4 separate regions of the Homo sapiens genome follow, and regions 1, 3 and 4 are each linked to region 2. Evidence: fine-mapped expression QTL. A gene starts in region 2. Each other region holds a variant in brackets. All regions are shown on one strand. Distances are from middle to middle. Region 1 has its middle 13 kb from the start of MDS2. Region 2 holds the start of ELOA-AS1 (ELOA antisense RNA 1). Region 3 overlaps ELOA (elongin A). Region 4 has its middle 9.7 kb from the start of MIR378F.

Region 1 (8,104 bases), 160 kb before region 2:
TATAATGGATAATATTTCATATTGATAATATTTTGAGACATTGGATTAAATATGTTACTAAAATAGAATTTAAAAAAAGATGCTGCTCAAAAATCCTTCTGCTATGCAGCCATCCCAGCCTCTCCCAGAGTTTGGTGGCTTCTCTCCTGCCTTGTCACAGGGTTTGCATGTGTCTCTATTATAGCTTTTATTTTTTTATAGCTCTGTCACCCAGGCTGGAATGTAGTGGCGTGATCTCGGCTTACTGCAACCTCCGCTCTCGGTTCAAGCGATTCTCATGCCTCAGCCTCCTGGGTAGCTGGGATTACAGGCACATGCCACCATGCCCAACTAATTTTTGTGTTTTTTGGTGGAGATGGGGTTTCACCATGTTGGCCAGGCTGGTTCAAGACCTCAAGCAATCCACCCATCTCAGCCTCCCAAAGTGCTGGGATTACAGGCATGAGCCACCACACCCGGCCTGTTACAGCTTTTAGAAGTTATATTGTAGTTGTCTGTTTAGGGTCTGTCTCTCTGACTAGCCCAGGAGCTCCTTGAGGGCAGGAACTATATCTTGGTCATCTCTACTCCTAATTCCTTGCATACAGCCTGGCACACAGCAGATGCTCAGCAGTAATTAATAAAGTGGATGACTACATGTATGTGAAAGCAGTGTGAATTGCAGTGAGAATTTTATTATTCTTCCATACCTGGAGTTCTAGGTGAAAACAACAGGATACATGCCACATAAACCCTGATCAAGGCTCTGGCAGGGAACAGATGGTATAACCAAATGGGTAATTTGTAAAAAGTTTAATGAAGGGACTACTAACAAAGGTGTGGACAAGGTTTAGGAAAACCAGGGGGAATGGTGCAGTACCCCAGGGCTGGCAGGCAATATGAGGAGCTGTTACCACCTGTGGCCTGAAGGGTGGGGAGGGAGAGGTCACCTGGACCCATGGCCAGAGATGTATGCACAGGGCTGCCTGATAGGAGCTGTAGGCTTCGGGTGAGGGACACAGCCAAGGTGGCAACCCTGTAGGAAGGGGCTGGGGAATAAATACCAGTCCCCACTTGCCACCTGTCCTCTGTCCTCTTGCCTCACCCAGCCAGAAGCCAGAGGGCAATGGGGGCCATTGATGTCACCCACAAAGGTCACCTAATCAAGGTACAGAACAGGTTGAGGAAGGGCAGAGGAGAGTTCTAGAGGGGCAAACAGAGAGATCCAGCATGAGAAAGAACATAATACCCTCAGGATCTTTAAAGGACTTCTGGATATGCTTATAAAATACAATAAATGCTGGGTGCAGTGGCTCATGCCTGTAATCCAAGCACTTTGGGAGGCCAAGGCGGGTGGATCACGAGGTCAGGAGATCGAGACCATCCTGGCTAACACGGTGAAACCCCATCTCTACTAAAAATACAAAAAATTACACAGGTGTGGTGGCACACACCTGTAATCCCAGCTACTCGGGAGGCTGAGGTAGGAGAATTGCTTGAACCTGGGAGGTGGAGGTTGCAGTGAGCCAAGATCGCACCACTGCAAATCCAGCCTGGGCAACAGAGTGAGACTCCATTTCCAAAAAAAAAAAAAATTAGCTGGCTGTGGTGACACACACCTGTAATCCCAGCTACTCAGGAGGCTGAGGCAGGAGAATTGCTTGAACCCAGGAGGCAGAGGTTGCAGTGAGCTGAGATGGCATCATTGCACTCCAGCCTGGGAGACAGAGTGAGACTCCATTTCAAAAACCAAAAAAAAAAATACAATAAATGGCCATACACAACAATAATCATTAGCACTTAAGCACCTACTGTGTGTCAGGTGCTGTGCTAATCCATTTTCCAGTTGTGGAAACTGAGTCTCAGAGAGGCTAAGCAACCTGCCCAAGGTCACACAACAGGAAGTAGCATAGCCAGGACTGGAACACAAGTGGGCCTCAAAGTGCAGGTTCTCATCACCTGGTAGCAACTACCTATTGCTAGGCACTATTTCCAATCCAACAAAGCTCTACAAGGTCAGTGTTTTTTTCCAGAAACTTAGAGAGGTCAGATGATTTCTCCAGGGCCACACAGCTCATAGGGGGTGGGGGTAGGGGCAGGGAAGCAGGGTTGGAGAGTTTGCCATTAGTTGGAGCAGGTGACTGGCAGATTGCACGGTGGCAGCCTCAGGGATTTTTTTAGCCCCAACGGGTGGAGCCACCTCTCACCAGGTGCCTCCCGGAGTCACTCCCCAGCTGCAACCACAGGATTTAGACTTTCAAAGCTGGGCAGGGCCCTCAGCATCCTCTAGGCTGCCTCTTGCCTGTGACTTTAAAACTAATAATAATGATCGCAGTCAGCCATGGCTTCCTGAACCCCTGGTGTACTCATTCATTGTCTTTCTCTACATTGTCGCTAATCTGACCACAACTCTCCTTTAGGATTGTACAACATCTACAGGCAGGTATCATGGGCTGCTCATTTTGTAGAAGAAGTCTGAGGCTTAGAAGGCAAATGACTTGTCCACGATCGCGAGGCAAGTCAGACCCTTCAGAGCCAGACCCTGACCCCAGGGCAGTGTATGCAGCTTAGAGCACCGATCCTGGACCTGGAAAGGCTGCATCCACATCCCCAATTGCACCTACCAGCTGTGCTGACCTTGGACAAGTCATTTCTCTGCATCTTAGTTTCCTCATCTATGAAATAGGAACAGCAATAGCATCTGCTTCATCTGGTTGTGGTAAGGATGAAATGAATGATAATACATAAAGCACTCAGAGCAGTTATTAGAAACACACCAAGGGCTTTATAAGCATTGTATCCTGGAGTCCACTGAGCTTTCCAACCTTGTCTGAGGAGGCTCTTAAAATTGCTTCTGTGTGACCCTGGCTTTCATAGTAATCAACTGAATGGTTCCCACCAGGGCCATGCACTATGCTTCACAGGCCATGCTTGCCCCATTCAGCCCTCACCATCACCCTGTCCCCATTTTGCAGACAAGGAAACTGAGGCCCAGAGAGGAGTTATGACCTGCTCAGGCCTCCACATCTCAGAAACTGCAGAGCCAGGGGGACTTCTCCCAAGTCGAAGCTGGTAGTCCCCCCCTCCCAACCGCAGGAAACCCAGATTGTTATGATTACTGGTATTGTTGTCCAAAACAATACTGGAGACGATGACAATACAACAATCATGGAGGGTGCTTATTTCCACTGGCTCAACAATTATCCCAACGCCCATATGGAGGGGGCCTGGGGCTTCAAGAAGAGGCTTCTCGAGGCAGGATGAACAAACAAGCAGTGAAAAGCCTGCAGCTGGGCCCCAGGTGCTGGAAGAGAGAGTGGGGCAGGAAGCGGGCAGGCCATTTCTTTCCTCTTCTTTCTTATTTGTTTGAGAAGCAACTTTACTTTCTAAATCGGTCATTGTCACCCGTTAGCCCCCGCCCCACCTGGGCCAGGGCCTCTGGTGACGGGAGCTCAGGAGGAAGCTCTAGGGGGCAGGAGGGATGAGGGTGCGAGGTGGGGCAGGGCCTGGGCCCAGCTGGACATGGGGGCTTCTTTCCTGCAGGGGCCTCATAGGCCACCTTCAGGTGACCTGGGCCTGGCAGACAGTACCTGCTGGAGGTGTGACCTGAGTCCTCCAGGTTCAGCTGCCAGTGGGGAGGGGAGGGAACCCTCATCAACAGGGAAGTAGCTGGCACGGTGGTCAGGGGCCTGGCTCTGGAGTCAGACCCATTTGGCTTCCACAGTCTGTCACCTCGGGCAAGTTACTTCACCTCTCTGAAAATGGGATGGTTTGTTGTGAAGATTAAAAATAATGAAACCACATGACACATGGAAAGCATTTAACACGTTTACTAGCACTTAAGCACATTTACCACTGGAGATTTACTTAAGAAGCCAATAGGTATTGGGCATTTACTATGCACCAGGCACTTTTAAAGCATTCTACACGTATTAATTCATTTATTTGGCACAATTAACATTCTTCCCACTTAACAGATGAGAAAACTGAGGCACACAGAGAGGTAGAGTTCCTCACACAGGGGCAGATCCAGGCTTGGCAGGATGTCAGTAAAGGTTATACAATACTGAGGGCGGGGGGGTCTCTTTAAATAATGAAGTACAAGGCCATGCCAATGAGGGACCCAGGACTTAAACCTCACCATCCTCACCTTAAATCTCCCTCTAAGCTCTGCCGCCCTGCTAGGAAGTGGTAGCAGAG[G/T]CCAGGTGGCTAGCTCCAGAACCCGTAAGAGTTATAAGCACTATTGAGAGTACACGAGACAGTCACTGCAGAATGCCACACAAATAAGAGGCAGCACTTCCATTGCATGTACCATGGGCTACACACTCATTTAACCCTTCCAGGAACCTAATGAGGGTGGCATATTATTACCACGCCCATTTTACAGATAAGGAAGTCAAGGCTCAGAGCGGACCAATGGTTTGCCTGAACGCACAGTGCTAAGGAGTGGTAGACCAGGATTCCAGCCCAGGCAGCCTGATCTCAGGGGCCACCTGTTTAGCCACTACAATAACTGTCACCTCGCTCATGACTGGGGCTCAGCACCTTCCTCTCACCTCCCCTTGCAGGCTCTCCCATCTGTTCCCTGACAGCAGCTTGGGGTGTGGACAAGACACCCCTGCTTTGGAGTCAGAGATGCCTGGATACTAATCCTCACCCTGTTGCTTGCTCGCTGTGTGTCCCTGAGACAGTCTTTTCCCATCTCTGAGCCTTAATTTTCTCATCTGTAAAATAGGAATTGTGCAATTTATAGGGTGGTCATGAAATGCAGATACATCAATTATTATTTTATGTGTTTTGTAACATACTATCAATAAGCCATGTATTTAAGTAAGTAAGTTGCCTTTGGATACCACTTCATAGGGTGGCTTGGAGAGTCAGAGTAAGGCGAAGAGTCTGGCCCATATTAAATGCTCAGGACCGGTAGAGATCACCATGCTGGGGACAAGGGGACAAGTCATTTGTGAGGAGTCAGGGGAATGGAGAAATGGACAAAACCAGATGTTGGGATGCCTGCATTCTGGAGGGATTTCTACCACCAGCTTGTGGTGTGACCTTGGACAAGTCACTCCCTCCTTTCTGAACTCAGTTTCTCCATTTGCAAGTTGTAGGCATCGCTCCTCACTAATGCATGAATGAAACTGTCTCTAAGGTCCTTAAGAGACTGAATTTCTGGGTAGGAGCACAGGAGCATCTTCTGGGTCTCTCTGAGGGCTGCTCCCATGAAGTCTCCCCCCTACTCTTGGGGTGCTTTTCATGGCTCCCACTCTTGAGACAAACAGGAGGGTTTGCAGGGAACTCATACATCTCATCTGCTCCAGCAGAACCACAGTGCATGGCTCAGCTCGTGGGCTCTGCAACTGGATAGCCTTGATCTAATCTGTTTCTCACCTGTAAAATGGAGATGAAGATAATATAATAGATGTCCTTATCCTGAGTTCATAGAGGAGGAGACGGAGGTTCCAGGAGGCACAGGACTTGCTGGAGGTCATGGCTCTCACCTTGCCCTTGTCCTACTGCCTCTGGCCCACCCTTCTACAGATATGGGCTTTCCCTATGGGAATCCCAGCTTCCTCTCCCCATCCTAGAGGATTGGGTCACATTGTCTTTTGCCCTCTGCCTGACATCCTGTCTCTCCTCTCTCCCCATCTGGCAAACTCATCCAGTGGAGGTGGGCCAGCCCTGGTGTCCCCACTTACGAGCACGGTGACCCTGAGTAAGCCTCCCACCCTCTCTGGGCCCCATCCCCTCCCCGACGTCACAGGAACAACGTGGAAACGCTTGGCACACCCAGTGCCTGACCCATGGTGAGTGCTCATGAAATGTCATCTCAAATGTTGTCTCCTCAGGGGGCTGCCCTGGGGCCTCCATGTGGACCAAATTTCTCTGGGCTTGCAAAACCCAGTCCCTTCAGCACTTATCACCCTGTATCATAACCATCCACCATCAGGTCTGTATCCCACGCATCCTCAGATCCCTGTGTCTTCTTTACATCCACTGTGTTTGGCATAGGGACTGATACAAAGGAGGCACTCAGTTAAAGATTGTTCAATGAGTGAGTGAATGAATGAATGAATAAATGAATAAATGAATGAATGGTGCCTGAGTGGTGCTACATTGCACCGGGGTAAGCATTTCTCAGTGTCTCTCACTCAGCCTTCTCTGTCACCCTATGGGGTGGGTGTTCTGTCATTGCCCCCATTTCACAGATAAGCAAACAGACTCTGCTGGGGGAGGTGGCATAATCAGTGTTGGTGAAACCGGGTCCCAGAGCCTTTCCATGTCAGGTGAGGGTGGGTGGTTGGAGCCCAGAACAGTGAGTGTGAGTGACCCCTTCCAGAATTTGCCTTTGACCATTACCTCCTTGTAGAACTTCTCTCCTCCCTCGAAGACGCTGCTTCTCCCAGAACCTCTCTCATACCCCTCAGTCTCCTTCCCAAGTTCCAGCCAACCCTTGAATATTAGTGTTCCCCAGGGTTCTGCCCTCAAGCCTCATTGTAAACTGAGGCAGGGCTGGAACCTCTTTTGTCTGCCCGGCATATTTTTCCAATCTTCTCATTTCCTGTCCATGTGCTCTGGTCAGGTATCCCTCACAGGGCCCCACCCACTGGGAAGGCAAGTAGGCCAATTACAGTGTCCCATTTTCCTTGATATACAGTGATTGGTTTGGGCCTGGGCATGTGATACAAGCTGAGCCAATCAGAGCCCTCCCTGGAACTTTCGATGGAGCCAGTGGCGAAGCTTGGCTCTCTCCTGAAATGAGAGCTGGTAGGATGTAAACATTTGAGCATCTTTCCTGGGACTGGAGAATGCCTATCTGCCATGGGAGAGAAGGCCCATTCTTTTTTTTTTTTTTTTTTTGTTTGAGACAGAGTCTCACTCTGTCACCCATGCTGGAGTGTGGTGGTGCGATCTTGGCTCACTACAGCCTCCGCCTCCCGGGTTCAAGCAATTCTCCTGCCTCAGCCTCCCAAGTAGCTGGGATTATAGGCACTCACCACCACACCTGGCTAATTTTTGTATTTTTAGTAGAGTCAGGGTTTCACCATGCTGGCCAGGCTGGTCTTGAACTCCTGACCTCAAGTGATCCGCTTGGCTCAGCCTCACGAAGTGCTGGGATTACAGGCTTGAGCCACCATGCCCGGCCGAGAAGCCCCATTCTTAAAGAAAGGCAGAGACAAACAGAACTGACTGATGGGTGTGATGGGGAGATAACCCAATGTCATCACTGGAAACCCTGGATCCAGCAATGCCCGAAGTTTGACTCACCCTTGAAACTCTAAGATAAAGGGGCCACTACGTTTGTAGTATCGTTTTTCTTTTTGTTTTGTTTTCCATAACCTAATTTGAACTGAGTTTCTGTCACTTACGACCAAAAGATTCCTAATATTCTCTCTCTCTTGCCTCTCCCTCGATGATCTTGGGTCTTATCTAGTCCTATATCTGGGTGTGTAGTGCAGTCAGTTCTTGAGGAAATGGACATCTGGGAGGTACCTCAAAGGTGACCTCGCTCTGCCTGCCACCTTCCTGGGTTAATGCTGTCATCATCTACCTCAGCTCCTGATACAGGAAATTCTGTCACCTTTATTTTGTGTCTCTCCCTCTAATTGTTCTCCTGGATCTACTGCTGTTCAGTTTCAGAAAGTTCTTGCCCAACTCCCCCCCACCCCACCCCATTGCCATTACCTTGGTTCAGGCCTCCTTCAGCTCACCACAACAACTTGAATCTGTCCTCCCTTTCCTCCCCCTTTGTCCATCCTCCATACCTATTATGGAGATTTTTTTTTTTTTTGAGATGGAGTCTCACTCTGTTGGCCAGGCTGGAGTGTAGTGGTGCAATCTCGGCTCACGGCAACCTCCGCTTCGCGGGTCCAAGCAATTCTCCTGCCTCAGCCTCCCAAGTAGCTAGGACTATAGACACGTACCCCCACACCTGGCTAATTTTTGTATTTTTAGTAGAGACGGGGTTTCACTATGTTGGCTAGGCTGGTCTTGAATTCCTGACCTCAAGTGATCCACCTGCCTTGGCCTCCCAAGGTGCTGGGATTACAAGTGTGAGCCACCATGCCCAGCCTACCACAGAGATCTTTCTAGAACCCACAACTGACCATGTCACTCCTGCTGC
Region 2 (8,104 bases):
CATTCACATTTTTGGGCCTCTCAGAGTTCTGTACTAGAAGGTGGTGAGAGGCAGAGAACAGGACCCTAGCCCTGCCCCATTCTCTCCATATCTCTAAATCTGTGTGCCTGGAAGGGCCTTGTGTCCACGCATGCAGAGGTCCTAACCTGTGTGCTCACACTTTGTTCTAGGGGTTCTAAATTGAAAAGGTCCCTCAGGTATCCAGCACAATGAATGACAAAAGAGACCAAAGCACAACAAAAATCATCACATTCTAGAATACCAAGAGAAGATCTTAAAAGCTTCCAGAAAACGGGGTGGGGTGGGGGGAAAACCCATAAAAAGAATCAGGATTCAGAACAGCATTGTATTTATCAAAGCCAGAAGAAAACCAGAGCAATTTCTTCACAATTATGAAAGAATTCTATCCACAGCCAAACTACTAATTAAGTACAGTAGAATAAAGCCATTTTCAGTGCCACTTAACATGTATGGCAGCATGGTAGCCAGCCACTAAGGTGGCCTCTAATGATTTCTACCTCCTGGTATCTGCACTCTTATGAAGTTCCCGCACACACTGAATATGGCTGACCTGTGAAACCATGGGATGTTGCAAAATTGACAATATGGGACTTCTGTGGCTAGGTCATAAAAGACATTGGTGGTTTCTACCTTGCCCTTAGATCACTTGTTCTGCTGAAAACCAGCTGCTGTATCATGAGGACACTCAAACAGTACTATTGAGAGGTCCATGTGTTAAGGAACTGGGGCCTCCTGCCAAGAGCCTGCACAAACTTGCCAGCCGGGGCTTCTCCAGCCCTGGCCAAGCCTTCATATGATTTCAGGCTCATGAGAGACCCCAAGCCAGAACCACCCAGCTAGGACGCTCTCAAATTCCTAACTCACAGAAACTGTGAGATGATAAATGTTAATTGTTGTTTTGAGGAGAGAGGCCATTTCTCTTACTGTCTCTGAAGAGAAGGAAGAAGTAAAAGCTGAAAAACAACAGGAATGAAGTCAGTGGCAAGACCAACTGATGCCACTTACCAGGCCTGAGGTTAAAGATTAACGCCCCCACCCTAACCACATGTGTTACCTATAGATCACTTGCTCAATCTATCACAACCCTTTCACGTGGACCCCCTTAGAGTTATAAGCCCTTAAAAGGGCCAGGAACTTTTTCTTTGGAGAGCTTGGTTCTTGAGACACAACTCTGCCAACGCTCCTGGCCGAATAAAGTCTCTTCCTTCTTTAACCTGGTGTCTGACAGGTTTTATCTGCAGCTTGTCCTGCTACAGTTTTAAGCCATTAAGTTTGGGAATAATTTGTTACACAACAAAAGACAACTAATACAGACCTACTGGGAGGGGAGGAGCCACAGTATTTTGCAGTTCTTCCAATCAGGAGGTGAAGTCTACAGTCTAGCTCTCCACTCTAGAATTTGGATTTGGCTGATGGGTCATTATAGAAAGATTATAGATGTAAGGCTTAAAAAGTGCTTGTGCTGGCAGGGCGCAGTGGCTCATGCCTGTAATCCTAGCACTTTGGGAGGCCGAGGTGGGCAGATCACCTGAGGTCAGAAGTTTGAGACCAGCCTGCCCAACATGGTGAAACCCCATCTCTACTAAAAATACAAAAATTAGCCAGGCGTGGTGGCAGGCGCCTGTAATCCCAGCTACTCGGAAGGCTGAGGCAGGAGAATCGCTTGAACCCGGGAGGGGGAGGTTGCAGTGAGCGGAGATTGTGCCACTGCACTCCAGCTTAGGTGACAGAGCAAGACTCCATCTCAAAAAAAAAAAAAAAAAAAAAAGTGCTTGTGCAATTGAGTCTTGCCCTCTCTTGCTCCTGGGAACTCTGCAATTATCACCATGTAATTTAGCTAGGCTTGTCTGCTGGAGACACGTGGTCCCATCATCCCAGCTAACAGCCAGCATCAAGCAGACGAGAGTGAGACCATCCCAAACTTTCCAGCCCAAGCTGAACTGGCCCAGAAAAGCTAATCCACAGGATCATGCGAATTAATCAATGTTTGTTGTTTAAAGCTATCAAAGTTTTAGGGTAATCTGTTACACAGCATAAGCTAATTGATACAGCATATTTACTTTGTGTGCACCTCCCGCCTCAACCTCCCCACCCTAACCAGGAAACTACTGATGTGTTACAAGAACACTACAGGATGTGTTCAAAGCCTGGTTACCTCCTAACTTTACCTAGTCTCAGACAAGTTAGTTTGCCTCTTTCAGCCTCAGTTTTCCTCATCTTCAAATTGGAGATAACAGTAGGTAATAGCACCTAGCTCTCTTTTTTTTTTTTTTGAGATGGAGTCTCGCTCTGTCGCTCAGGCTGGAGTGCAGTGGCACAATCTCGGCTCACTGCAACCTCTGCCTCCTGGGTTCAAGCGATTCTCCTGCCTCAGCCTCCCGAGTAGCTGGGATTACAGGCACACGCTACGATGCCTGGCTAATTTTTCTATTTTTAGTAGAGACGGGGTTTCACCATGCTGGCCAGGCTGGTCTCAAACTCCTGACCTCAAGTGATCTACCCGCCTCGGCCTCCCAAAGTGTTACAGGTGTGAGCCACCACACCTGGCTGTACCTAGCTCTTAAAGTTCATGTGACAATTAATTGAGATGAACTACATAATGTGCTTAGCACACAGTGCTCAAATAAATCATTAATGAAGGCAACAGGAAAAAGCCAAAATGAGTAGATCTCCGGGGTAAGGCCTGAGTTGGTTCTTCAAAAGGACACTCTTACCAAAGAAAGGCTACCAAGTATATCAGTCAAGTAAACATTTACTGTTTGCCACATTCCAGGTCCCTTACCTGAAACTGTGACCTAAAAGCAGGAATAATTCACGGCACTGAGCTATTTTGAAACAGAACCAAGCTTGCTTATTGCACAAGTAACTAAAATAGGACATCAAAATATTTTTCTTGTTTTTATTTTTTTGAGACAGTCTTGCTCTGACACCCAGGTTGGAGTGCAGTGGTATGATTACAGCTCACTACAGCCTCACCCTCCCAGGCTCAGGAGATCCTTCCACTTCAGCCTCCCAAATAGCTGGGACCACAGGCATGAGCCACCATGCTGGGCTAATATTTTTAATTATTTTTGTAAAGATGGGGTCTCCCTATGTTGCCCAGGCTAGTCTCAAACTCCTGGGCTCAAGTGATCCTCCCACCTTGGCCTCCCAAAAGTGCTGAGATTACAGGCATGAGGCACTGCATGTGGCCCAGAAAATATTTCTGAATGGAACTTGAAAAAATGGATATTTTGGTCTATACTTCACCAGCCCCACTGAGCACTCCAGAGCCAGATGTGAAGGGAAGAGGGTAGCCAGGGTATCCCATAACTCTCTTTCTGTATCCTGTCTTTTCCCCACCAGGGAGTAGGAAAACATTCTATCCTGAAAACAAGATTATTTCACCTCTAAACAGTGACTTTTAATTATTTTGATCTCAACCCACAATATGAAAAACACATCATATTGTGTCTGAATACAAACTCAAAACTGAAACAAAAGTTTCATCAATTGAGACTTGAAATGTGTGATACATTCTGGGTTTTTTTTTTTTTGTATTCTATTTTTTTTTTAAATGTTGATCACAATTCTCTATAAACGGATTTTAAAACCTATTGACAGGCCACAACCAGCTGTTCGAAAAAAAGTACTTTGAAATATCACATGGGGGAGGAAACGCAGAGATCATCTAGTCCAATCCCTTCACTTCACAGGGGGTAAACTGAGTCTCAGAAGATCAAGTCACTTGCCCAAGGCCACGCAGCTAGTAAGTTGCTGTGGTTGGATTTGACCGTAATAACCATCGGCTACTGAATGCCCATCATGTGTCAGCCATTTGCTGAGTTTTTTCTTTTTTTTTCTTTTTGAGACAGAGTCTTGCTCTGTCGCCAGGCTGGAGTGCAGTGGCGCGATGTCGGCTCACTGCAACCTCTGCCTCCCGGGTTCAAGCGATTCTCCTGCTTCAGCCTCCCGAGTAGCTGGGACTACAGGCTCGCGCCACCACGCCTAGCTAATTTTTGTATTTTTAGTAGAGACGGGGTTTCATCATGTTGGCTAGGATGGTCTCGATCTTTTGACCTCGTGATCCGCCCGCCTCGGCCTCCCAAAGTGCTGGGATTACAGGCGTGAGCCACCGCGCCCGGCCTGCTGAGTTCTTTAATTGCATTATTTCATTTAATACTCACTGTGATCCTATGAAACAGATACTATTCTTTCCACCTTACAGACGGGGAAACGGAGTCTCAGAATAGGGGAAATGACTTAAGGTGTCACAATGGCCAGTAGCAGACCCAGGAGTAGTCTTTAGGTCTGGCCGTGCACAAAGCCCCATGCTCTCAAGCTGTAACCCCGCTATCAAGAAAGTGGTTATGCAAGTGGGCCTGTGAGCTCTCAACGTCTAAGCCGTGCGCATGTGAGACAGCGATAAGCTCGCGTTCTCCAGTCTCCAGGGCCTTATCATTCCTCACGCTTTCCTTCATCGGCTCGCAAAGAAACGTGGCGATCAAGGAAGACAGCGAAGGCTCCATCCTCGTCGGGGGAGGATAATTCGAATCTCAGCCTGTGAGTTTACTCAGCACACCTGTTTAATCTCTTGGTCCTTCAGTTTCCACACCTAGGAAGCTGGAACAGCAGCAGCATCCAGCGCCAGGACTGGAGTCATATACGAACTCTGGCACCTGGGAGGCGCGCGTCCTACGTCAGTTCCGCTCGACCCCACCCCCCCCGCCCCCCCGCCTTCTCCCCACGCGCATGCGCCGCGCAGCGGCGCTTTTTACGACGCGGCAGGCGCGGCGCGCTTAGTTGCCGGAGCTGAACGGCGCGGAGCTGGTCTGAGGCGAGCCGAGCCGAGCGAGCGCGGCGGTGGGGCCGAGAGGACGCGCAGGTGGCGGCGTTGCCATGTCGCACGGTCACAGCCACGGCGGGGGTGGCTGCCGCTGCGCCGCCGAACGGGAGGAGCCGCCCGAGCAGCGCGGCCTGGCCTACGGCCTGTACCTGCGCATCGACCTGGAGCGGCTGCAATGCCTTAACGAGAGCCGCGAGGGCAGCGGCCGCGGCGTCTTCAAGCCGTGGGAGGAGCGGACCGACCGCTCCAAGGTGGGCCGCCTGGGGCTTGGGGCGGGCGGGGCAGGGTGCGTGTGGGGCCTCGGGCCGTCGGTCTACTCATTTCTGATGTTAAGAATAACGACAGCCTGGTTGCCAAGCGCTTTTCCGTGCCTGTCTCCTGCCAGCTCTTTGGGAGGCGAGCAGCGTTGTCTCCCCATTTTGCATATAGGGAAACTGAGGCCTAGAGGGAACGGGGACAGTTTTGTCAAGCTACACAGCCTAACGCTCTATTCCAGGGCTGTGTGGGCTAGAGAGGATGGTCGTGAGGGCCGTTGGACCATTGGTGCTAATGGCTGCCTCATCATATTACCTGGTGAAGATGAGCCTAGGGAGATGAAAGGTGGTTCCCATATAGAGCAAATGTTCTTTACATTGTGGGGTCGCAGGCCCCTTTGCTATCTGTTTGAAAGCAGTGGACCTTCTTCTCAGAAAAATGCACATAAACACCTGCCTTTCAGTTCACACTTCAGAAGGCTCTTCGACCCTGGAAATTCATTCATGGGCTTTTTGTTAAGAACCTTCCAGTTGGGTGGCCTGTGGCTGTTATGACACTGGATAAGACTGGTTAGCTTCAAGTTAATAAGTCTTGGAAAACCAAGGGAGAGTGACTCTTCCCATTGCACCCCAGTTGTAGAGCAGGGTGGGAGATGCCTGAAATTGTAGGCTCTCAGCAAATATTTGTTGCTTTCTCCTCCCCCCTCCCCATCCCCTCCAGTTTGTTGAAAGTGATGCAGATGAAGAGCTTCTGTTTAATATTCCGTAAGTATCTCCTTGGTGCCTACCTCAGGCTAAATAGGCTGTACCCAGTTGCCTCAGATGGATTCATTCACTGGTGTCAAGAGCACACATTTGCTTCTAGAAATGGGATAAATTACTTTGGTGGGTTTGAGGAGGAAAGCATCATAGCTTTCTTGGTGCAGACTGGAAACAGATGTATTTGTAGAACAATAACTGAGAAATTGAGGTAGATTTCTTAGAATTGTAGAATGCTAGAGGTAGACAGGATCTTAGAAATTATCTAGTACAAGTTGACAGATGAGTAAACTGAAGCCCATACAGGGGAAGGGTCTTGCCCAGGGTCACACAACTAAACAGGTATTCAAACTCAGGTTTGACAACCTTCTCTTTTGCATTCTGGCAGATTTACGGGCAATGTCAAGCTCAAAGGCATCATTATAATGGGAGAGGATGATGACTCACACCCCTCTGAGATGAGACTGTAAGTGGCAAAGGCTTAGGCCCTCAAAGGAGCTCCTAATTCTCTTTTTCTGGTAACATTTTATTCCAGAATAGTATCATTTTCTTCTTACCGGGTTTAATATTTCCCCTTTTAAAATATCTTGGTCCTGTTCTCATTCTGCATTGGAATACATATATTTCTTCCTGAATTAATGACTTTTTTAGATTAAGCATCTTTAGGCCCAACAGCGTGTCTCATATTTCAAAGTGCTTACTATGACATGATTCATTCAGAGAGCATTGTGTAAATGTCACTTGTTGATGACTCTGCAGTTTTCTTAATAACTAGCTGCAGATCTCATATGATCTTTATGGATTCTAGGGGTTAGCTTCAACATTTTTCCTTGCTATTTCATACAGTAATGATCTTATGTGTTTTGTTGACATGGAATTGCTCCACCTGACTTTGCGTGGCATTTAGTTAGCAAAGTTGTGTATACCTCTTGCAACACTGAATCTTTTGCCACCAGAGCTAGTACCCTTTTTGACAACTTACCTTATTCCAGAACAGCCTTCCTAAAAGAAGGGGAAAACTGCTTTCTGAGTGCTGGAGAAACATATAAGAAGAACTTTACATTTAAAAAATTCAGTCCGGGTGCAGTAGCTTATCTCACAAAACCAATAAAAGATGATATATAGGCTGGGCACAGTGGCTTACACTTGTAATCCCAGCACTTTGGGAGGCTGAGGCGGGCGGATCACCTGAGGTTCGAGACCAGCCTGGCCAACCTGGTAAAACCCCGTCTCTACTAAAAAAACAAAAATTAGCTGGGCCTGGTGGTGCGTGCCTGTAATCCCAGCTACTAGGGAGGGTGAGGCAGGAGAATTGCTTGAACCTGGGAGGCGGAGGTTGCAGCGAGCCGAGATCTCGCCACTGCACTCCAGCCTGGATGACAGAATGAGACCCCATCTCAAAAGTAATAATAAAAACAAATAAATAAAAAATTCAAATCCTAAAGGCCGAGCATGGTGGTTCACACCTGTAATCCCAGCACTTTGGGATGCCGAGACTGGTTAGGAGTTCAAGACCAGCCTGACCAAGATGCTGAAACCCCGTCTCTACTAAAAATACAAAAATTAGCCGGGCATGGTGGCACACGCCTGTAATCCCAGCTACTTGGGAGGCTGAGGCAGGAGAATCGCTTGAACCCAGGTGGCAGAGGTTGCAGTGAGCCAGGATCGTGCCACTGCACTCCAGTCTGGGTGACAGAGCAAGACTCCATCTCAAAAGAAAAAAATAATTCAAATCCCAGCACTTTGGGAGGCCGAGGCGGGCGGATCACTTGAGGCCAGGAGTTCAAGATCATCCTGGTCAACATGGCGAAACCCTGTCTCTACTAAAAATACAAAAATTAGCTGGGTGCGGTGGCACAGGCCTGTAATCCTAGCTACTGGAGAAGCTGAAGCATGAGAATCACTTGAACCGCGGAGGTGCAGGTTGCAGTGAGCCAAGATTGCACCACTGCATTCCAGCCTGGGCAACAGAGTGAGACTCTGTCTCAAAAAAAAAAAAAAAAATTCATCTGAAAAATTGATTAAAGGACTTCCAGAGATTTAAGATATATTATAGTTGAGTATTAGAAACATGAATTTGAAAGCAAATCCATGTATTTAATCATTTTAAGGAAATAATACCTTTGATGCTTTTGGAGACTCATTTACTTGGAAGTTGATGGACTGACCTGAGAATATTAGGCATCCATGCTGCATTGTGATTTAGAGTGTGGGATCTGGAGTAAACTGGGTTCAAATAATGGCT
Region 3 (8,104 bases), 20 kb before region 2:
CTGCAAGTTATATGACCTTGAGAAATATCTTAATTTCTTTGGACCTTAGTTGTATATATTGTGTAAATGGGAGTTATAATGGTATCTGCCCCATAGGGCTCAGTTTAATGAATTCAGAAGTGATGCCTTTTTGCTCTGGGTTTATCACATAGTAATTGTTCAGTAAATTGCTGCTGCTGTTATTAGCAGCCCTTTATCCTATGTGTTACATAGGATTTTTGTCTGAAAGAAAAAAATGTCTAATTTTCATAGCAAAAGAAGTAGAAGCCACATAAGGGTCTATCAGCAGGAGACTAACAGATAAATCATGGTTCATCTACACAGTGGCATCCTATGCCACAGTAAAAAAAAAATGTGGAAAGTCTATGCACTGACATGGAATGATCTCTCAGATGTGGCAAATGAAAAAAAGCAATGTATGTAGTGAGTATGTTATTAATTGATTCATTGGCTTAAAAGGAATAAGATACATTTGCTTTTTTTTGTTGTTGCTGTTGAGAGTCTTGCTGTGTTACTCAGGCTGGAGTGCAGTAGCTCCATCTTGGCTCACTGCAGCCTCCACCTCCTAGGTTCAAGCAATTCCTCTGCCTCAGCCTCCTGAGTAGCTGGGACTACAGGTGCATGTTGGGCAGGCTGATCTCGAACTCTTGACCTCAGATGATTCATGTGCCTTGGCCTCCTAAAGTGCTGGGATTACAGGAGCTTATTTTTAAATTCTCTGGAAGGATCTACAAAAATCTGTAGCGTGGATTGCCATTGGGAAAGGGAAGTAGGAGGCTGAAGGGGGTAGAAGGAGAGTTTTCACTGGATCACTTAGGGCCTTTTGTGTTTTTCTTGCCCTATAGCGTTCTCTTCACCCCAGGAAGAAGAAGAAGCTGGATTTACTGGGCGCAGAATGAATTCCAAGATGCAGGTGTATTCTGGTTCCAAGTGTGCCTATCTCCCTAAAATGATGACCTTGCACCAGCAATGCATCCGAGTACTTAAAAACAACATCGATTGTAAGTCACACGCTTCTCTCTAGCTCTCAAGCACATTGTAGCACTTGGACCTTATCACTGGGTGGCTTGGCTGCTACTCAGTGTCTTCACCTTTGGTTTCTCTGCAGCAATCTTTGAAGTGGGAGGAGTCCCATACTCTGTTCTTGAACCCGTTTTGGAGAGGTGTACACCTGATCAGCTGTATCGCATAGAGGAATACAATCATGTGAGTATTCTGTTTGGGTGGGAAGAGGGCAGTTTTCTGGCTTGTACCTCCAGAAATAGCTTTGTCCCTGTGACTCCGCTGTGGCTGAAGGGCAGATCAGTGGTCAGAGCATTGTTCTGGATATATTTGGTTTGCCACTGGGCCTTTAAACAAGCATGTTATTAGCACTTGCTCCTGGCACCTTAAGTGGGCCTCTTGGGCTAGGATCAGGGTGGGATTCAAAGGGAGAAGAAAAACACTTAACATCTCCCTTGAGCTTGCCTAGTCATGAAGGTAAAGGGAGAATTCTGGCAGCAGAGTAGCTGGGACCCAGGGCGGGGAAAGCACTTTGTGTTGACACTCTGACATCTGGTGATTGGCTGGATGTCTCTTAAGAAACATCAAGATTTATCCAGAATCCTCCTTAGGATGTAGGGTATACACATTTGATTGCATCAGCTGTCTCTCTTTAATTCTGAAAGTTCTATGACCTAACACCTTTTTTTTTTTTTTTGGAGATAGGGTCTACCTCTGTTGCTTCGACTGCAGTACAGAGGCCTAATCATGGCTTACTGCATCCTTGAACTCCTGGGCTTAAGTGATCCTCCCAAGTAGCTGGGACTACAGGCACATACCACCACAGCTGGCTAATATTTTTATTTTTTAGAGAGATGGACTCTCAGACTCTTGGCCTCCTGAAGTGCTGGGATTACAGGCATGAGCCAACGCGCCTGGCCAATAACTTAACATCCTTCTTAGGTTGCCCCTTTGCCATCACAGTTCAGCGTAGTGTTGGGAAGTACCTGATTTGACTTGATCGCAGTTCTACCCTTTGCTGATTTTCTAAAGGAAAAGACTGATGTTACACAGATTTTTGTGATATTCTGTCACAGCCACCAAAAGCAACTAGCATAGTGCCTCACACTTCGCATTTTTAAAATTTAGGGAGTTATTTTTTTCCTAGAATTGTGGTATTTTAACATACTACTAAGATGAAGACCAAAAAATTTTTGGGAAACTGGTCACTCCTAGGTAATTAAATAATCAGAAAAAGATATGAGGCTGGGCATGGTGACACACGCCTGTAATCCCAGCACTCTGGGAGGCCAAGGTGGGCGGATTATCTGAGGTCAGGAGTTCGAGACCAGCCTGGACAACATGGCAAAACCCCATCTCTACTGAAAATATAAAATAGCTGGGCGTGGTGGTAAGCACCTGTAGTCCTGGCTACTTGAGAGGCTGAGGCGTGAGAATCGCTTGAACCCAGGAGGCAAGGGTTGCAGTGAACCAAAATTGCACCACTGCACTGCAGTCTACACGACAGAGCAAGACTCTGTCTCAAAAAAAAAAAAAAAATATGGAAAAGTGCTTGTACACAAATGATGTCCTGGTTCTGGTTTCAGGTATTAATTGAAGAAACAGATCAATTATGGAAAGTTCATTGTCACCGAGACTTTAAGGAAGAAAGACCCGAAGAGTATGAGTCGTGGCGAGAGATGTACCTGCGGCTTCAGGACGCCCGAGAGCAGCGGCTACGAGTACTAACAAAGAATATCCAGTTCGCACATGCCAATAAGCCCAAAGGTAACAGAGACGGGAGAGCTGGGGGAGAACTGGCAGGATGAGTGTTCTGGTCAATAGCAGGGTGTTGGTGGGCTTGGCTGGTGTAGGACTGCTTGCCCCTACATCAGGTAGCAGGGTGGGTATTTCTTCTGCCACCGCCCATTCTACCCTACAAGTGGGGTTTCAGGGCACTCAAAAAGCCCGTGGATTATTTAAATAACAGTAGCATCTCTGCTCAAGAAGGCAGATGTTCATCTCCATAATTCCACAGGCCGACAAGCAAAGATGGCCTTTGTCAACTCTGTGGCCAAGCCACCTCGTGACGTCCGGAGGAGGCAGGAAAAGTTTGGAACGGGAGGAGCAGCTGTCCCTGAGAAAATCAAGTAAGATCTGTGTTCTTACCTGGCTTTTGTGTGCTATCAACCCTTAGAGGTAGCCATAGCGGCAGGAAGCAAATTGCTTTTGGTGAAAGTGAGGCAGTGCAGACTGTGGGCTCTGGAGGCAGACCTCATCAGCTCAGCACTTCCCTCACCTCCCTCAGCCTCCGCTTCTTGGACTGCAGTGCAAGGTGATAATTACCCCTGCCCTAGGGTAGTCAAGATTAAATGGAGAGCAAAGCCTGGCTTATGGGAAACATTCCCTTATGCTTTCCCTTTTCCCATCTAAACAAAAAACACATTTCTGCAATGATTGTTATTTTGTCTAAGCCACATTAGCCTTTTCAAAATACAGATTTATACCAAAACAGTGAAAAGTTAGTTGAGATTATCATTTTTTCTGAAAGGATAATGGAGACATCTCTGAGCCACCACCAGAATCCAGGGTGATAGGGTCCATTGGTCAAAGCCACAAACAGGGTGAGTCATCCTCACACAGGCCAGCTTCAGGCTGTTCATGCTCAGGGCAGATTTCTTGTGCTCATGCCTAACCAGTGTTGTCCTGTGTTGCAGGATCAAGCCAGCCCCGTACCCCATGGGAAGCAGCCATGCTTCCGCCAGTAGCATCAGCTTTAACCCCAGCCCTGAGGAGCCGGCCTATGATGGCCCAAGCACCAGCAGTGCCCACTTGGCACCAGTGGTCAGCAGCACTGTTTCCTATGATCCTAGGAAACCCACTGTGAAGAGTAAGTAACTTGGAGTTCCTGCTCAAATATTATTTCAGCACTAGTTTTTAACTCTCAATGTCATTATTCACTGTATTACATTTTGTGGACTGCATGTTGCATGTACATGATGCCTTGCACATAGCTGGTCTGAATGTCAGTCCCTCCTTCCCCCTGCTTTGTCCATAGTGCATTATATCTCTTAAATAGTTATAGTGAGTCTGGGTGCAGTGGCTCATGCCTGTAATCCCAGCACTTTGGCAGGCTGAGGCAGGAGGATCCCTTGAATCCAGGAGTTCAAGACCAGCCTGGACAACATAATGAGACCCTCTACAAAAAATTAAAAAATAGGGCATAGTGGTACACACCTGTAGTCCCA[C/G]CTACTCAGGAGACTGAGGTGGGAGGATTTTTTGAGATGGAGTCTCGCTCTGTCACCCAGGCTGGAGTGCAGTGGCACAATCTCAGCTCACTGCAAGCTCTGCCTTCCAGGTTCATGCCATTCTCCTGCCTCAGCCTCCCAAGTAGCTAGAACTACAGGTGCCCACCACCATGCCCACCTAATTTTTTCTATTTTTTAGTAGAGACGGGGTTTCACCATGTTAGCCAGGATGGTCTCGATCTCCTGACCTCGCGATCTGCCCGCCTTGGCCTCCCAAGTGCTGGGATTACAGGCGTGAGCCACTGTGCCCGGCCGACCCTGTCTCTGGAAAAAAAAAAAAAAAAAAAGTGAAAGTAGAAAATAGTATCTGGCCAGGCATGGTCCCTGTCTCTATTAAAAATAGAAAAATTAGCCCACCATGGTGGCATGTGCCTATAATCTCAGGTACTCGGGTGGCTGAGACAGGAGAATTGCTTGAACCTGGCAGGCAGAGGTTGCAGTGAGCTGGGATTGTGCCACTGCCCTCCAGCCTGGATGACAGAGTGAGACACTGTCTCTAAATAAATAAATAAATATCATTGTGAATGACCATTTTGGCACTCTTCTTTTTTCACCTAAATATAAACTGACTTCTCTAGGCAATACCACAGTGTTCATAATTACTAATATTAACAGCTAAATGACAGGCCCTCTTACTGTTTTTTTATAGTCTTATAACTCTAGCTTCCAAATATTTATTCTTTATATCTAATTGGGTCTTCCAATTTATTTATTTATTTTTTTTTTTTTTTTTTTTTTTTTTTTTTTGGAGACAGAGTCTCACTCTGTCGCCTGGGCTGGAGTACAGTGGCGTGATCTCGGCTCACTGCAACCTCCACCTCCCAGGTTCAAGCGATTCTCCTGCCTCAGCCTCCCAAGTAGCTGGGATTACAGGTGCCCGCCACTAAGCCCAGCTAATTTTTTGTATTTTTAGTAGACACGGGGTTTCACCATGTTGGCCAGGCTGGTCTCGAACCCCTGACCTTGTGATTCGCCCGCCTCAGCCTCCCAAAGTCCTGGGATTACCAGCGTGAACCACCATGCCTGGCCGGGTCTTCCAAATATTTATTCTTTATATCTAGTTGCGTCTATTTTGTATTTTGTTAACTTTATTACCATAGACTATCCCCAGTATCCTAAGGGGATGTCCTAACTTAAGTCTTATTCTGTATTAATTGCAGGGCCCATGGGAGGGTGGGAGTCCTGGCTTGAGCTACAGCTATGCTCAGATGAACCATTCAGGAGGCAGGCTGGCCTTCCTTAGGCAGTACTTGCATAGCCACCTTAGACCTGTTTCTACACTGGACAGATTGGGGGTAGACGTGCTGTTTACTGGTTTGGCTATTTGTGAGGCAAAGTTAAGTTATGACTGAGTATGGCCTTTAGAGTCTGGCAAGGGCCGGGGCACAGTGGTTCACACACACCTGTAATCCCAGCACTTTGGGAGGCTGGGGTAGGAGGGTGCTTGAGCCCAGGAGATCGAGACCAGCCTGAGCAACATAGTGAGACCCTGACTCTACAGAAAATAAAAAAAAATTAGCCAGGCATGGTGGCACACTCCTGTAGTCTCAGCTACTCTGGAGTCTAGGAGGTAGAGGCTACAGTGTGCTGTGATTGTGCCAATGCACCCTAGCCAGGGTGACAGAGTGAGACTCTTTCCTTACAAAAATAAAAACAAGAAAGTCTGACAGAGATTGAATTGTAATTCTGTACCTTACTGTACAACCATGGGCAAGTTGGCCAGGCTCTCTGAGCCTTGGTGCAGGTGGTTAGAGAGAGTGGTGGTCATGCCCCTGGCAGGTCCTCCGAAAGTGTCTGCTCTGTGCTGTTGCTTTTATTGCATTGTGAACAGAGGAGATAGTTACTACTTGTATCTCTGCCTGGTGGTGCACAGCCAAGAATAGCAGAGCTGGCTTTGACTGTAAACTACTGGGGGTGTGTCTAAGCCGCCACAGATCTGAGACAGCTGCCTTGTTTCTCTTTTCACAGAAATTGCCCCAATGATGGCCAAGACAATTAAAGCTTTCAAGAACAGATTCTCCCGACGATAAACTGAGGACTTGCCTTGGAAATGGAATCTGGGGAGGCAGGAATACAAGGACAGTGGGGGTTGGGGAATGGAATTCTACAGGAGACTGGAGTCTTGCTTTGTGGATCCTTTTGGTCTCCGAGTCCTGCAGTCTGCAGGTGCTGCCCCTGGGAACCTGCGTGCCACAGCCCCGCCTCCCTGCCTGGAGCACACTTTAGAATTCTGAAGATGTGAAGCCTCTGTCTCACTGAGGATTTTAAAGGTCAATTATACTTTTGTTGTTCATTAGCATCTTTGTAAACTATAAGACGTAGTTTTAATTAATAAATATTGCCCCCAGATTGTATTTATATTATCCCCCAGGTTTGTTTTTGTTTTTTGTCCTCTACCACACATTTAGCCTTTTATCTTCCAGGTCCTTATTAAAATCAGATGAAAGCCTAGTGAAAGCCAGTCTCCTGCCCCAGCTCAGCTCTGTGTGGACTCTGGTCCAGACAGAGGACTGGGCATCTCCAGAGCCTGCACAGTACCTGCTGCACGTAGGGCAAGGAATGAGCACTAGACCGCCTGTCCCCAAGGGAGCCTCAGTGGGGCGACAGGGTGCTCGGCGGACTCCACCTCAGGCCCTCCCCACTGTTGCTGTGCATTCCTGTGCAGGTGCATCTCTTTCTTACTAACTGGTATTTATTAAGGGAGGTGCTCTGTAGGTCTGGAGCCTTTCCCTCATCCTTTTTGCGAGTCCCCACCTTTTTGTTTTTTTTTTTTTCTTTGAGGCTCACTAGAGGACGCAGAACCTTGGGAGATTGATTTGCACAGAACTCCCCACCTCCCACTTTTACAATTTCCAGTTTCTGATTGAAAATTTTAGGGTTTCTCCCCACTGCCCTTCCCTATCTTTCCTTCCCCTCAACACCATGAAGGAAAAACACACACGGCAGGGCTTTTTGTAGCCCTGAAGGCAACTTTAGACATTTAAAATCCAGCACTTTAATCTCTTGTTCTCTGTGAATCACTATGAGAAGTGAATGGTTTTAAAGGCTGTAATGCTATGTTGGAAATTGGTTTGTTTTGCCTTTTATTGAAAAGGTAAGATCATGTGATTGGAAGAACACAACTGTTGGCTTGGGAAGAGGACTTTGCTGCTGAAGTGTTTTCTACCTTCTGAGTGTGTTTAAGGCAGGATTTGGAGGGAAGGACCAGCTTAGGGAGAGTGTCTGAGCCACAGCGTCAGGATGGGGGAAACCACATGGGATCCATCAAGTTCCAGTTGAACAGGAGCAAGATCAGAACTTAGGAGGGCAGTGTCAGCTCCCTTGTTGGCTGTCAAGGAACACCGATCTAGTAGAAACCCACTTGGTTGTGACCCAGGTAGAGGTAGATGCCATACATTTGAGATATGCGTCCTTAAGGAACCTGACAAGCAGACTGAAGGGATGGTAAGTGTGACAGCCTGATAAGTTTTCTCAAAGCCCAGGATACAGAGCCAGTGTTTTCTGTAACTGGAGACCTCAGTTAGGCCAACTTCGAATTCCAGAGCAACGTAGGAAGTCTATTCAGCAGAAACTCGACATTGTTCAGTGTGTATTGCTGTGCAGGGTGCCTATTGTGACAGGACACAAATGTTACTATGTTTTAATTTGCTATATTTTTGAATGGGTAAAGCATTACTTTACTTCTCTTGGTTACTTGTACCACCATTCCACCCCTATCCCTAGCCTGCCCCACAAATCTAATATTAGGAAGCCTCTTAACTGAAACCAAATGAACATTTGGGTCAGGTGCCAGATGTCTGCTGCCTAGAATAGCT
Region 4 (8,104 bases), 160 kb after region 2:
AGCCACTGCACCTGACCTGTTCTATCAGTCTTAAGATCTGTTTTAATGTTAATGCTGGTCAGCTGTGTCTGAATTCCAAAAGGGAGGAGGGAATAACGAGGCATGTCCAACTCCCCCTTCCCATCATGGCCTGAACTAATTTTTCAGGTTAACTTTGGAATGCTCTTGGTTGAGAGGAGGATCCATTCAGATGGTTGGGGGACTTACAATTTTATTTTTCATTTGCAAAATATACCAATTTTCATAATCCCATTGAAACTACCTTTGCCCTCTCCCTCTCCCTCCCCCTCCCCCTCCCCCTCCCCACAGTCTCCCTCTCCCTCTCTTTCCAAGGTCTCCCTCTGATGCCGAGCTGAAGCTGGACTGTACTGCTGCCATCTCGGCTCACTGCAACCTCCCTGCCTGATTCTCCTGCCTCAGCCTGCCTAGTGCCTAGTCACGCGCCGCCACGCCTGACTGGTTTTCGTATTTTTTTGGTGGAGACGAGTTTCCCTGTGTTGGCCGTGCCAGTCTCCAGCTCCTAACCACGAGTGATCCGCCAGCCTCGGCCTACGGAGGTGCTGGGATTGCAGACGGAGCCTCGTTCACTCAGTGCTCAATGGTGCCCAGGCTGGAGTGCAGTGGCGTGATCTCGGCTCGCTACAACATCCACCTCCCAGCCGCCTGCCTTGGCCTCCCAAAGTGCCGAGATTGCAGCCTCTGCCCGCCCGCCACCCGGTCTGGGAAGTGAGGAGCGTCTCTGCCTGGCCGCCCATCGTCTGGGATGTGAGGAGCCCATCTGCCTGGCTGCCCAGTCTGGAAAGTGAGGAGCGTCTCTGCCCGGCCGCCATCCCATCTAGGAAGTGAGGAGCGCCTCTTCCCGGCCGCCATCACATCTAGGAAGTGAGGAGCGTCTCTGCCCGGCCGCCCATCGTCTGAGATGTGGGGAGCGCCTCTGCCCCACCGCCCCGTCTGGGATGTGAGGAGCGCCTCTGCCCGGCCGCCCCGTCTGAGAAGTGAGGAGACCCTCTGCCTGGCAACCGCCCCGTCTGAGAAGTGAGGAGCCTCTCCGCCCGGCAGCCACCCGGTCTGGGAAGTGAGGAGCGTCTCCGCCCGGCAGCCACCCCGTCCGGGAGGGAGGTGGGGGGGTCAGCCCCCCGCCCGGCCAGCCACCCCGTCCGGGAGGGAGGTGGGGGGTCAGCCCCCGCCCGGCCAGCCGCCCCGTCCGAGAGGGAGGTGGGGGGCGCCTCTGCCCGGCCGCCCCTTCTGGGAAGTGAGGAGCCCCTCTGCCAGGCCACCACCCTGTCTGGGAGGTGTACCCAGCAGCTCATTGAGAACGGGCCATGATGACAATGGCGGTTTTGTGGAATGGAAAGGGGGGAAAGGTGGGGAAAAGATTGAGAAATCGGATGGTTGCCGTGTCTGTGTAGAAGGAAGTAGACATGGGAGACTTTTCATTTTGTTCTGTACTAAGAGAAATTCTTCTGCCTTGGGATCCTGTTGATCTGTGACCTTACCCCCAACCCTGTGCTCTCTGAAACATGTGCTGTGTCCACTCAGGGTTAAATGGATTAAGGGCGGTGCAAGATGTGCTTTGTTAAACAGATGCTTGAAGGCAGCATGCTCTTTAAGAGTCATCACCACTCCCTAATCTCAAGTACCCAGGGACACAAACACTGCGGAAGGCCGCAGGGTCCTCTGCCTAGGAAAACCAGAGACCTTTGTTCACTTGTTTATCTGCTGACCTTCCCTCCACTATTGTCCTATGACCCTGCCAAATCCCCCTCTGGGAGAAACACCCAAGAATGATCAATAAAAAAATAAATAAATAAATAAAATAAAATAAAATAAAAAGAGAAACTACCTTTGCAAAAATTATAACAGTAAGAAAATCATGGCAGTAAAAGAGATCTGATCTAATCCACACCCATCTTGCCTTTCCCTTAATTATTCCTGGGCTTTGGGGCTGAGCTAACTTTGAGAGACATTTAGTTTATACTTTAAATGATAATAGGCCTTCCCCAAAACTCAACTGTCTTTGTTAAGCCAATGAAAGGTCATCAGGCTGTGGGAGGAGAGGAATCTGAATTCTGCTAAGGTGAAGAAATTGTTTAATTGCCAGCCACTCCTGCAGGTAACACCACTATTGTAGATTGGCCTTTTGAGTATCTTTTCAGTTTTTGGAAGTCTGAAACCAATGGCTCCACCCGTACCTGGCTCTGCCTCTACCCACCGACATTGCTCCTGTGGTCCCACTCAGAAGTAGTTCAGCACTCAGGACAGCTTCCACCCCCTATGATTTCATCTCTGTCCCAACCAATCAGCAGCAAGCCTAGCCACCGCAGCCCTTCCTCGAAAGTGCCTTTGGAAAACTCCTAAACTACCAGCTTTGGATGAGATTTATTTGAGTCCTAATTCTGTCTGTCACATTGTGTGACCGGCCTCATGTCTATTGTACTCTTTCGTTACTGCAATGCTGTGGTCTTTGTTTATGCAGCAGGCAGGAAGAATCCATTGGGTGGTTACATCATTAACCCTTACATTTTTATGTTCTAGTTTCAGAAAATTCTCTTCTCTACCCCCGGACCATATTGGGGGAACCCACCCTCAATATTTCAACATAGGTTCTTTCTATTTTCCATAAGTGTAGGCCGGCTGAGAAATAAAGAGAGACAGTACAAAGAGAGGAATTTTACAGCTAGGCTGCTGGAGGTGACATCACATATCAGTAGGACCGTGATGCCTGCCTAAGTCTCAGACCAGCAAGTTTTTATTAAGGGTTTCAAAAGGGGAGGGGGTGTAAGAACAGGGAGTAGGTACAAAGATCACATGCTTCAAAGGGCAAAAAGCAGAACCACTAATAAGGGTCTAACAAAGATCACGTGCTTCTGAGGGAACAGCTAGAATTACCATATGATCCAGAAATTTCACTTCTGGGCGTACACCCCAAAGAATTGACAGCAGGGACTAGAACAGCCTGTGAATACCTATGTTCGTAGCAGCCTTATTCACAATAGCCAAAAAGGGGAAACAACTCAAATGTCTGTTGACAGATCAATGGATAAACAAAATGGGAATATACATACAATGGAATATTATTCTGCCTGAAAAAGGAAGACAATTCTTTTTTTTTCTTTTTTTTCTTTTTTTTTTTTTTTGAGATGGAGTCTTGCTCAGTTGCCCAGGCTGGAGTGCAGTGGCGCAATCTCGGCTCACTGCAAGCTCCACCTCCCAGGTTCACGCCATTCTCCTGCTTCAGCCTCCCGAGTAGCTGGGACTACAGGCGCCCGCCACCATGTCCGGCTAATTTTTTTTTGTATTTTTAATAGAGATGGGGTTTCACCGTGTTAGCCAGGATGGTCTTGATCTCCTGACCTCGTGATCCGCCCGCCGCAGCCTCCCAAAGTGCTGGGATTACAGGCGTGAGCCACTGTGCCTGGCCAAAAGGAAGACAATTCTAACATATGCTACAACATGAAGGAACTTTGAAAACATTATGGTCAGTAAATTAAATAAGCTACAAGACACAAGAGGACAAATATGACACAAGAGAATAAATATTGTATGATTCTACTTATATGTGTTACCCAAAGTAGTCAATTGCATAGAGATAGAAACAGAAAATAGAATGGTGGTTGCAGGGTCTGGAAAGAGAGGAGGAGTGCAGAGTTATTATTATTATCATCATTATTTTCAGACGGAGTTTCAGTCTTGTTGCCCAGGCTGGAGTGCAGTGGCGCCATTTCGGCTCACTGCAACCTTTGCCTCCCGAGTTCAAGTGATTCTCCTGCCTCAGCCTCCTGAGTAGCTGGGATTACAGGCGCCCACCACCATGCCCAGCTAAGTTTTGTATTTTTAGTAGAGACAGGGTTTCATTATGTTGGCCAGGCTGGTCTCAAACTCCTGACCTCAGGTGATCCACCTGCCTCGGCCTCCCAAAGTGCTGGGATTACAGGCGTGAGCCACTGTGCCTGGCCCAGAGTTATTGTTTTATGGGTAGAGAGTTTCAGTTTTGCAAGATGAAAGGAATTCTATAGACGGGTGGTGGTGAAGATTGTACTTAATGCCGCTGAACTGTACTCCTAAAAAGGGTTAAAATAGTAACTTTTATGTCATGTGTATTTTACTACAAAAAAAAAAAAAAAAAGAGAGAGAGAGAGAGACTGGGCACAGCGGCTCATGCCTGTAATCTCAACACTTTGGAAGGCTAAGGTGGGAGGATCACTTAAGCCCAGGAATTCAAGACCACCA[G/T]CCTGGATGATATAGTGAGACCTTGTCTCTAAAAAAAAATTAAATTAAAAAAAAAGTGATGGGATACTTCTGAGATTAGGTTGCAGAAAGACGATGACTTCTACCTTGCAAGCTCTCATCCTCCCTAACTTACCCTGAGGGAAAACAGTTGCCATAATGTAAGCTGCCCCGTGGAGAGGTCCACAAGGCAAGGAAATGATGCCTCAAGTCAACAGCCATGCGGTGAGTTTGGAAGTGGATTCTTCTCAAGCCAAGCCTTGAAATGACTGCAGTCTGTGATGACACCTTCATTGCAATCTTGTGAAAGACTCTGAACCAACTCTCAATCTTGAGAGAGCCTCGTCTTCTGGACGAGCTAAGCTGCACCCAGATTTCTGACCTACAGAAACCGTGAGTAAAACGTGTGTTGTTTCAAGCTGCTAAATTTTGGAATAATTTGTTATGCATCAATAAATAACAAATACAGCTGTTACACTTTCTATAAAAGTGTGTTATTGAATATACTTTTATATAATACTATAAAACTTTTTTTAATTTGGCAATCTATTTTGACACTTACCTTTAACAAAACATAACTTTTCTTTTTCTTTCTTTCTTTTTTTTTTTCTTGAGATAGGGCCTTTCTCTGTCGCCCAGGCTAGAGTGCAGTGGTAAAACCATGGCTCACTACAGCCTCAACCTCCTAGGCTCAAGTGATTCTCCCACCTCAGCCTCCTGAGTAACTACAGGCATGTGCCACTACGCCTGGCTAATTTTTTGTTTTTTGTAGAGATGGGGTCTTACTATATTGGCCAGGCTGGTCTGGAACTCCTAGACTCAAGCAATTCTCCTGCCTCGGCCCCCACTAAGTGCTCTGATTACAAGGATGAGTGACCACGCCTAGCCATGAAAATATACTTTTCTTCAACTTGATTTTTTTATTTTTTATTTATTTATTTTTTTAGATGGAGTCTCTCTCTGTCACCCAGGCTGGAGTGCAGTGGTGTGATCTTGGCTCACTGTAGCCTCCACCTCCCGGGTTCAAGCAATTCTCCTGCCTCAGCCTCCCAAGTAGCTGGGACTACAGATGTGCACCACCACGCCTGGCTAATTTTTGTATTTTTAGTAGGGACAGGGTTTCACCATGTTGACCAGGCTTGTCTCGAACTCCTGACTTTGGGTGACCCGCCCACCTCGGTCTCCCAAAGTGCTGGGATTACAGGTGTGAACCACCGTGCCCAGTCCAACTTGATTTCTTTAATGCCACAGTATGGGGCACAGTTTAGGACATGTTACCCCAAAATATGGCCTCTTTGACATTTGAGAAAACAGCAGAAGCATGAAGGGCTCTCTGACTTTCCACTATTCTTCCCTAAAGTAAGCCATGAAAGAATTCTCTGACTTTCCTTTAAAGCTGGAGTTATTCCCTGTACCCAGAGGAAGGGAATGAAGACACAGACACAGAGAAGAATTAGGACAAATAGGTTAAGTTCCCCTGGTGTATTATCAGAAAAGGTATTGGATTATACATTTTCTTCTTCCAGTCATACTTTGCATAACTGTCCATAAAACTAAAGTTTCCCCTGTTTCTTTCTTTGAGTCTTCATTTCTTTTTGTTTTCTTTTCTTTTCTTTCTTTTTTTTTTTTTTTTGAGACGGAGTCTCACTCTGTTGCCCAGGCCAGAGTGCAGTGGCAAGATCTCGGCTCACTGCAGCCTCTGCCTCCTGGGTTCAAGCAATTCTCCTGTCTCAGCCTCCTGAGTAGCTGGGATTATAGGCGCCCGCCACCACACCCGGCTAATTTTTTTATTATTTATTTATTTATTATTATAATTATTTTTGAGATGGAGTCTCGCTCTGTTGCCCAGGCTGGAGTGCAGTGGTGCGATCTCAGCTCACTGCAAGCTCTGCCTCCTGGGTTCAAGTGATTCTCCTGCCTCAGCCTCCTGAGGAGGTGGGACTACAGGCGCCTGCCACCACGCCTGGCTAATTTTTTGTATTTTTAGTGGAGACAGGATTTCACCGTGTTAGCCAGGATGGTCTTGATCTCCCGACCTCGTGATCTGCCCGCCTCGGCCTCCCAAAGTGCTGGGATTACAGGCGTAAGCCACCACGCCCGGCCTATTTTTTATTTATTTATTTTTTTTGAGATGGAGTCTTGCTCTGTTGCCCAGGCTGGAGTGCAATGGCGCGATCTTGGCTCACTGCAACCTCTGCCTCCTGGGTTCAAGCGATTCTCCTGCCTCAGCCTCCCGAGTAGCTGGGATTACAGGCGCTTGCCACCACGCCTGGCTAATTTTTACACCTGGCTAATTTTTGTATTTTTAGTAGAGATGGAGTTTCACCATGTTGGCCAGGCTGGTCTTGAACTCCTGACCTCAGGTGATCCACCCGCCTTGGCTTCCCAAAGGGTTGGGATTACAGGCATGAACCACCGTGCCTGGCGGAGTCTTAATTTCTTAGTCACCTATGTCACATAAAATTTGTATTAAATAGATTTATTATGCTTCTCTGTTGTTCTATGTTCTCTCTTTTCTTTCTTTTTTTTTTTTTTTTTTTTTTTTATTAGACAGAGTCTTACTCTGTCGCCCAGGCCTGACTACAGTGATGCAATCTTGGCTCACTGCAACCTCTGCCGCCCAGGTTCAAGCGATTCTCCTGTCTCAGCTTCCTGAGTAGCTGGGATTACAGGTGCCTTCCACCGCACCCGGCTAATTTTTGTATTTTCAGTAGAGACGGGGTTTCACCATCTTGGCCAGGCTGATCTTGAACTCTTGACCTCATGATCCACCCGTCTTGGCCTCCCAAAGTGCTGGGATTACAGGCGTGAGCCACCGTGCCTGGCCTATCTGTTCTTTCTTATGGGCTCTCAGCCGTGAATCCTGCGATGCGTAAGGGAAAGATCATCTTCTCTCCCTTACAGATGCCTAATTAATTACGTGAGGCCATGCCTTTTTTATACATGCATTTTTTCAACAGACACAGAGAAGTTTGAATAGGCTGCATCCTGTCAGTCAAGGGAATAGTTTGGCAAACAGGCAGCCATAATGGGATTTCCTACCGGGTTTCCAGGAAGGAAAGTCCCTGTGTATAGAGCCTGTAACTCTTATGCGTCCAGATCCTTGAAAAGGAAGGAAGAAGGGAGGGCTTGAAGTGTCAACTTTGCCAGGGTCTTACCAGATAAGGGCTGCCAAAAGGAGAACCCTGAGCCACAGTATTTGGTGGCAATTGTGGTCCTTGTATGTGGTCAATGCCTGCTCCAGGATCCTTCTAGTGGAGATAGCTGTCACAGAACTATTAGATACCATAGTTGATCTACATTTCATTATATTAGATTTTAAGGACATACAAGCAAATATATTACCCCTGAGATCAGGCAAGAGAGGCCCTTGCTCTGGGCTCCACAACCCCTTGCTCTGGGGTTAGAGAACCCCATGTCACAAGCATACATCAAATTAATTTATTAAATAAGATAAAAGTGAAATATTAGTCAGGGCACGGTGGCTAACGCCTGTAATCCCAGCACTTTGGGAGGCCGAGGCGGGCGGATCACCTCAGGTTGGGAGTTCAAGACCACCCTGACCAACATGGAGAAACCCTGCCTCTACTAAAAATACAAAATTAGCCGGGCATGGTGGTGCATGCCTGTAATCCCAGCTACTTGGGAGGCTAAGGCAGGAGAATCGCTTGAACCTGGGAGGCAGAGGTTGTGGTGAGACGAGATTGAGCCATTGCACTCTAGCATGGGCAAAAAGAGTGAAACTCCATCTCAAAAAAAAAAAAAAAAGAAAAGGAAATATTAGAATCAAATTACAAACAATAACTGTTAATGACACAGACAATTATCATTCTATCTTGAAATAAATGAACACAAGAATGAAAGTTCCTAGTCTAGC

What was found.
Region 1: its variant is fine-mapped to the expression of ELOA-AS1 in blood mononuclear cells (TOPMed, PIP 0.96).
Region 3: its variant is fine-mapped to the expression of ELOA-AS1 in whole blood (TOPMed, PIP above 0.99).
Region 4: its variant is fine-mapped to the expression of ELOA-AS1 in whole blood (TOPMed, PIP 0.99).

Annotation. Positions count from the first base shown.
Region 1 is chr1:23,609,967-23,618,070 of GRCh38, forward strand. No RefSeq gene overlaps it. Among named protein-coding and RNA genes, the nearest start is that of MDS2, 13 kb to the right of the region's middle. RefSeq lists an enhancer at 2,854-2,903. The variant G/T (reference allele first, on the strand shown) is at 4,180.
Region 2 is chr1:23,773,617-23,781,720 of GRCh38, forward strand. It overlaps ELOA-AS1 (ELOA antisense RNA 1), which reads right to left and starts at 4,681. Exons shown (of 4, transcript NR_038280.1): 1 at 4,583-4,681. PITHD1 (PITH domain containing 1) reads left to right here and starts at 4,802. Exons shown (of 6, transcript NM_020362.5): 1 at 4,802-5,097; 2 at 5,822-5,865; 3 at 6,248-6,325. The coding sequence starts at 4,900. RefSeq lists enhancers at 3,526-4,478, 5,732-6,931 and silencers at 4,732-5,041, 5,132-5,181.
Region 3 is chr1:23,753,255-23,761,358 of GRCh38, forward strand. ELOA (elongin A) reads left to right here. Exons shown (of 11, transcript NM_003198.3): 6 at 846-1,001; 7 at 1,109-1,206; 8 at 2,589-2,769; 9 at 3,020-3,131; 10 at 3,699-3,871; 11 at 6,258-8,104. The coding sequence ends at 6,319. ELOA-AS1 (ELOA antisense RNA 1) reads right to left here. Exons shown (of 4, transcript NR_038280.1): 4 at 7,128-7,897. Among named protein-coding and RNA genes, the nearest start is that of ELOA, 14 kb to the left of the region's middle. The variant C/G (reference allele first, on the strand shown) is at 4,230.
Region 4 is chr1:23,934,690-23,942,793 of GRCh38, forward strand. No RefSeq gene overlaps it. Among named protein-coding and RNA genes, the nearest start is that of MIR378F, 9.7 kb to the left of the region's middle. The variant G/T (reference allele first, on the strand shown) is at 4,231.